2 linked regions of the Homo sapiens genome follow. The protein of the gene in region 2 purifies or fractionates together with the protein of the main gene of each other region. This does not show direct contact. Each region holds a gene or a part of one and is shown on either strand. Other genes may lie near its edges.

Region 1 (3,500 bases), on a different chromosome or scaffold from region 2:
GAAGCAACAGAGCCCAGATTCAACTTCAGGTGTTTCTAACTCCAAAGCCTGAACCAAACTGCCTTCCTCTGATTGGCATTGGTACCTGGAACTTCACCTGTTCCAAGGAGCTGATATTTGCAAGGTGCCGTGGCTGAGGCAGGAGAATCGCTTGAACCTGGGAGGCAGAAGTTGTGGTGAGCCAAGATCGTGCCATTGCACTCCAGCCTGGGCAATAGAGGGAGACTCCGTCTCAAAAAAAAAAAAAAAAAAAAAAAAAAGCGGCAAAAGGCACCAAGACCCAGTGCTTCCCTGACCTCTGTTCCCTCTAAATCAGCATCTATCACAGTAGATCAACCTGGATAAAGCCAGGATTCACAGCAGAAGTGGCACCTCAGACACCAAAGCAGCTTTCCTTCTCAAAGCTTTTAAACATCATTGGGAAAACTTAGAGCAAATCAAACCAATGTTTTTCAATACATGGAAGGAAAGATGTGTGTGCTTGGTTTTGTTTTTTGCTGAGACCCAAACATTGTTAGTGCAAGCCCCCGCCAGGGGTGCAGGTGGAGTCAAAGCTGAATGAAGAGCTCGTCTTCAATGTAGCTCTCCAAGCTTTCAGAGCAAGACAACCATGGACCATCCTCTTCTTCAGACTGGCCTGTCTTCTTCTTGAACAATGTCACTTTGCTCCTCACTGCTGTCATCTGTATGGGGGGAAATAAACCCAATGCTTTGTAATCAGAGTGTGATTCTATTTCCACCGTCAGTCATCAATCATCTCAGTGATTTCTAGTCCTTTCCTGGTGAGCCACAGAATGGGATCTCATGGAGAAGGTAGGGCAGCGTGTGTTTTCCCCTTTTCACCTGTTTTCTACATTCAGAACCTCTAGGCATGCTTGATACCAGTCACCCTTCATGTCCTCAGCTCACGCCCCTCCCCTCACCTGAAACGCCCTCTCTCCTTTCTGCTTATTCCAACTCAGCCGTCTTAACGCCTTGCTTCATGTCTACCTCTTCCATAAAGCTTCCCCTGACCAGCACACCTCTCCGGGCTCTTATCTTTCTCTGAGGTCCTATAAATTTTGGTGCAGTGGCACGATCTCATCTCACTGCAGCCTCAACTTCCCAGGCTCAGGTGATTCTCCCACCTCAGCCTCCCAAGTAGCTGGGGCTACAGGTACATGCCACACACCCAGCTAATTTTTTGTATTCTTAGTAGAGACACGTTTTGCCATGTTCCCAAGGCTAGTCTCGAACTCCTGAGCTCCAGCGATCCACCCACTTTGGCCTCCCAAAGTGCTGGGATTACAGGCATGAGCAACCGTGCCTATAATTTTTAAATGTGTTGTCCATCAGGCAATTAATCAAATATCTTCCTGCAACAGCTCCTCTACTGCTCTCTCAGTGTGTTGGTTCAATCTTGCTCCTGTTTCCATTTCCCCTGCAGGTTTTAGTTTGTTCCCCTAAACTGGCCTTTTTTTTTTTTTTTTTGAGACAGAGTCTCACTCTGTCACCCAGGCTGAAGTGCAGTGGCACGATCTCGGCTCACTGCAGCCTCCGTCTCCCGGGTTCAAGTGATTCTCCTGCCTTGGTCTCCCAAGTAGCTGGGATTACAGGCACCTACCACACCCAGCTGATTTTTGTATTTTTAGTAGAGATGGGGGTCTCACCATGTTGGCCAGGCTGGTCTCAAACTCCTGACCTCAAATGATCCACCTGCCTCAGCCTCCCAAAATGCTGGGATTATAGGCGTGAGCCACCGCACCTGGCCTGAACTGGTCTTGTAAAGCTCCCTGCATGCAGACACTACCAGTCTCTATTTTCTGTTCTCCCACAATGCCAATATTGTGCCTACCCTAGACCAGGACCTTGATAAGTGTTTGTCAATTTGATTTTCATGTTGGTAGTTGATAGTAGTCTCAGGTTCTAGACTAAAGTTTAGCTATCTTCCCCAGCCTTTTAAAAAAACTAAACTCACCCCTTAGAGATTTCCTGCTGGGAAGCTCACCGCAGCAGTTCAGAGGTTTGTGGGCTTTTTTTTTTTTTTTTTTTTTTCTGAGGCAGGTTTCCTACTGCTGCCCAGACTGGAGTGCAGTGGTGTGATCATAGCTCACTGCAGCCTGGACTTCCTACACTCAAGTGATCCTCAGCCTCCCAAGTAGCTGGGAACACAGGTGCACACCACCATGACCGGCTAATTTTTCTTTTTTTTTTTTTTTTTTTTCGTAGAGACAGAGTCTCACCATGTTGCCCAGGCTAGTCTTGAACTTCTGGGCTTAAGTGATCTTCCCACCTTGGCCTCCCAAAGTGCTGGGATTATAGGCGTGAGCCAACGCGCCTTTTTTTGTTTGTTTTCTGTTTGTTTGTTTAAGGAAAAAGAGCTTACCTTGAAGATCCTGGAATCCATTTCCCATCTGTTCTATGTTCCCATTCACCAAGGCGGTCACTCTGTGAATGTGGTCCTGCTTAGGTATTTCTTTTGGCAACTCCTCTCTCTCACGTGCTCCCTCCTGTTCCCCTACTGCAGCATCTTCCTCCTCCTCCTCCTCCTCCTCCTCTTCCTCTTCTGAATCCACCAAAACCATGACATCATCCATGTTTTGTCCCCTAATTTCCAAAGGGGAAAAATAATCAAGAAGATTTCTTATTTTTCCCAACTTCAGCCCTCACTGAATAGGAAACACTAGATTCTTTGCAACCCCATTAGTAATATGGAAAATTACAGCTTGGTGAAGTAATGAGGTGATGGTGTGGTAACCGCAGAGATGCTGCCACAAATTGCTTCAGATGATGGTATCTCATGCTGGTTTATTACTCCCCTGCTCCTTGGGCAGGTGACCATATTGTCCCAGGCATCTACCATTTCATGTCCCCTTACAGCAGGTAGACAAATGTTTTTCCTTTTCTGAAATGCCCTCATTCTGCTCTACTTACCAAAATCTCTCCCCTTCCTCATTTTGGAAGACCCAGGTAAAGTCCTCTCCCTCCTGCTAAAGACCTAAATTAATGACTGCATTTAGAGTCCATGCTATAGTTTATTTATCACCAGCTCACTAGCTTGCCTACCCAGCCAGACTTTGCATTTCAGACTATACATTTCTTTTTTTTTTCTTTTTCGGGATAGAGTCTTGCGCTGTTGCCCAGGCTAGAGTGCAGTGGCGCAATCTTGGCTCACTGCAACCTCCACCTCCTGGGTGCAAGCAATTCTCCTGCCTCAGCCACCCAAGTAGCTGGGACTACAGGCATGCGCCACCACATCTGGCTAATTTTTGTATTTTTAGTAGAGACATGGTTTCAACATGTTGGCCAGGCTGGTCTCGAATGCCTGGCCTCAAGTGATCCAACCACCTTGGCCTCCCAGAGTGCTGAGATTATAGGCATGAGCCACTGTTGTGCCCGGCCTGGACTGTGCATTTCTTCTTCTTCTTCTTCTTCTTTTTTTTTTTTTTTTTGAGACAGAGTTTCATTCTTGTTGCCCAGGCTGGAGTGCAATGGCACAATCATGGCTCACCGCAACCTCT
Region 2 (3,500 bases):
GTTCTCAATACTCCATTTAGACTTATCCATTCATTTATCAAAGGTACTATCAAACTTTTATCTTCTCTTAGGGTATTATTTGATTTGTTATTACAGTAACCATGATAAAAACTTGAAATAACCATAACAACTCAAAATCCATAGGAAGACATTATTCACAACAGAATTATACCTCTTCCCAATGGCTTAACTATTACAAATGCTTCAGTATTTTCTTCTTTGGGGACTTAAAATCTGGAACAATTAGAGATAAATCAGAAAAATGTGTGACCCCTGTGATTATCAGAAAACCAAATGTTTTCATGTTTAAAAGATAACATTGTTCATAGTATACATTATCCTGCATAACCCTTTTCCTTCAAAATGGATATTAAAATTTAAAATCCTATTAACCCAAACAGTATCACATTTAAATATATATTGGGCTAATTGTATTAAAAACTGACATTTTTCTTGGAATCAATGTGATGCCATATTTGAGTAAGTAATAAGCCAACATTCACCATAAACTTTCTTGTCTGCCAGAAAACTAGTGTTACTTCTAAACAGTCTACTCACCATTTACGAGATGCACATTCGAAAAATAGCATTCCAGCTAGGATTAAGACAATATAAACAAAGAAGACACACAATTTCCCCTCACATTTCTGCTTCATATATGATTGGCCAAGGTCCTATAGTATGCTCCAAGTTATCAACTAATTTAGCCACAAATCTATGAAAATAATAATAAGTATAGTTATATTTCATATGTGGCTTAAGTGTGCTTAGCACTCTATACGCATTATTAATTTAATCCTTAAACTAGATGAGATAGTTTACAAGGGAGATAAACAAGGCTCAGAGAGGTGAAGCAAGTTGCCCAACAAAAGGCAGTCAGGATTTGAACCCAAGCCTATGATTCCAGGGTTCAAGATCATAGCCATTAAGCTCTACTGCCTTTCCACTAAGAAATATCTGAGAGTGAGGCCAGGTGCAGTGGCTCATGTCTGTAATCCCAGCAAACTGGGAGGCTGAGGCAGGAGGATTGCTTGAGCTCAGGACCAGCCTGAGCAACATGGTGAAACCCTGTCTCTACAAAAAATACATAAAATTAGCCAGGCGTGGTGGCATGCACCTGCAGTCCCAACTACTTGGGAGGCTGAGGTGGGAAGATCACTTGAACTTGGGAGGTTGAAGCTGTAGTGAGCCTTGACTTTGCACCACTGCACTCCAGCCTGAGTGACAGAATGAGACCCTGTCTTAAAAGAAAAAAGAAACATCCAAGAGTGGAACAGAAAACTTTGTTGAAATGAAGTGATCTTTAGAAATGTATCACCATTTTTTTAAAAGTGGGACCAAGAAAGAAAACTCTACAAACTACAAGCAAAACTCTTATCTCCTTTTACTGAATAGACTGTAAAAGCACTTCACCTGTAGACGATAAAGACCATCCACTAATCACAATCCTCTATACCCATGTCCTTACAAGATTTGAGCAGTAACACAACAATATAACAATGTCAGGCCCTGTGAACTATGTCTGGCATGGAACAACAACAATGAAAGTGGGACTGCAATAATGAAAATCAGTTGAAAGATTTAGTGTTTGACTTACTCCATTTACTTTCACCCCCTTTCTTCACTTGCCTTTTTCTTCTTCATCTTTCTCATCTGGAGCAAATTAAACCATCACGTTGTAACAGGCATTCCTCCAATGCTCTGCTGGCCTATTTTCAAAACCATCTCAAACTGTAGAAACCTTTTATCAACCTCAAAGCACTTAATCCTTGACAACTTTCTTCTAGTATTAACTATTTCAGTGGCCAGCAATTAACAAACCAATTTGTATACTATGCTGTAAATGAAAGCAGCTTTAAAGTTAGCAAAAGTGAACTTCAAATCAGTGAGACAGGCAAGTGTGCACAGAACAAGGCAAAGCTTTGACACCATGAACTGTGCTGCTTTAAGTTTGTGGTCCTTGTGTTCTAATAACCTCTAGCCTTTTTTAAAAATTTTTTTAGATTTTTTTTTTGAGACAGGGTCTCACTCCGTCACCCAGACTGAAGAGCAGTGGTGTGATTGTAGCCCACGGCAACCTTGAACTCCTGGGCTCAAGGGATCCTCCTGCCTAAACCTCTCGAGTAGCTGAGACTATAGGCGTGTGCCTCCATGCCCAGCTAATTTTTAAATTTTTTTTTGTTCTTATAGAGACAGGGTCTCGCTTTGTTGCCCAGGATGGTCTTGAACTCCTGGGCTCAAGCAATGCTCCCGCCTAGGCGTCCCAAAGTGTTGGGATAACAGGAGTGAGCCACTGCGTCAGGCCTAATAACCTCTATTCTGAAAATATCATTCCCTAGGCAGGTCCTTCATAGTCACTCTTAGCCATTACCCACCAACATTAAAAACTCTGTAAGAACTCAACACATGTTTAGATTTAGACCATTAGACCAAGGGTAACCAACATGTACCCTTGAAATTGCGCAACAGAGAAAAACATTTATGTCCATTAACTTTCCCACAGGTCATCATGGGAATTTACGGCTATGAAAATGTTTGGGTGTTTGACTAAAAGAACAGATTCGGGCAGTACAGCACCACCTCAGTGCTTTCCAAAGGGTCATCTCAGGGTTACCACAGCTGCCCTTGCAAGCAGAGACTTTCTCTGAAATATTGGGGTTTGCCTCAGATTTTCTATGAATATTGCGTTCTAAGGCAGAATGTATCTGAATTTGTTTAAAGATTTTTAAATAGCTACCAGTTAATGTTCTCCTAAATCTCTGTGTAAAACAGATGCTTCAAGAAAATACAAGCTGCTTTATTTTGTGGCTCCTGGGAGCACCACCTTGTCACCACCCTGCTCAATCAGTACATGTGCTCCACTTTGAAGGACCCAAAGTAATGGAAAGAGCACTAGACAGAGATTCTATTTGTTTAGACTAGCACAATGCTTGGAATATAATAGGCACTTAATAAGTATTTGTTGAATGAATTGGCAGAATAGTTTCAAGGACTAGTTTTCAACTGCAAGAAAACTGCAGAAAAAATCCTTTGAGACATGTAATTACTGGCAACCCCACAAAACCGAAGGAAAAAAAAACAGGCCAGGTACAGTGGCTCATGCCTGTAATCCCAATACTTTGGGAGGCCACAGCATGAGGATCACTTGAGGCCAGGGGTTCAACACCAGCCTGGGCAACATAGTGAGACCTCATCTCTACCAAAAACAAAAGAAAATACACCAATTGTGTATTGGTAAAGAACAAGAAAATCCATGTTGTTTTAGTTTAGTTAGAAAGGAAAAGGCTGTCAAGATGTTATATAAAGATAATACTGAGGGGGGTTGTGTTAGGATAATTAAAACCCAATTCATATCATGGACGCTAAGAAGAGTTTTCAATTAACTCTTGGGTTTTCCTTTGCATGTTTTTAATCTTAATGATGTCAAGTTTACAGAGGAAAATAAAGAATTGTAACGCACACTCATGTCCCCATGTAACCATGCAGGGCGCTGGGGCTAA

Evidence for each region. The genes of interacting proteins can lie anywhere in the genome.
Region 1: the proteins of KLHL13 (region 2) and VSIG10 fractionate together in Homo sapiens (co-fractionation; one large-scale study listed by BioGRID). This does not show direct contact.

What each region holds. Positions count from the first base shown.
Region 1 is NC_000012.12:118,066,012-118,069,511, forward strand, and holds part of VSIG10 (V-set and immunoglobulin domain-containing protein 10 precursor), read right to left. Parts: intron 2,587-3,500; coding exon 2,366-2,586; intron 684-2,365; coding exon 628-683; 3' UTR 1-627.
Region 2 is NC_000023.11:118,106,811-118,110,310, forward strand, and holds part of KLHL13 (kelch-like protein 13), read right to left. Parts: intron 1-3,500. UniProt on the Homo sapiens protein: Substrate-specific adapter of a BCR (BTB-CUL3-RBX1) E3 ubiquitin-protein ligase complex required for mitotic progression and cytokinesis.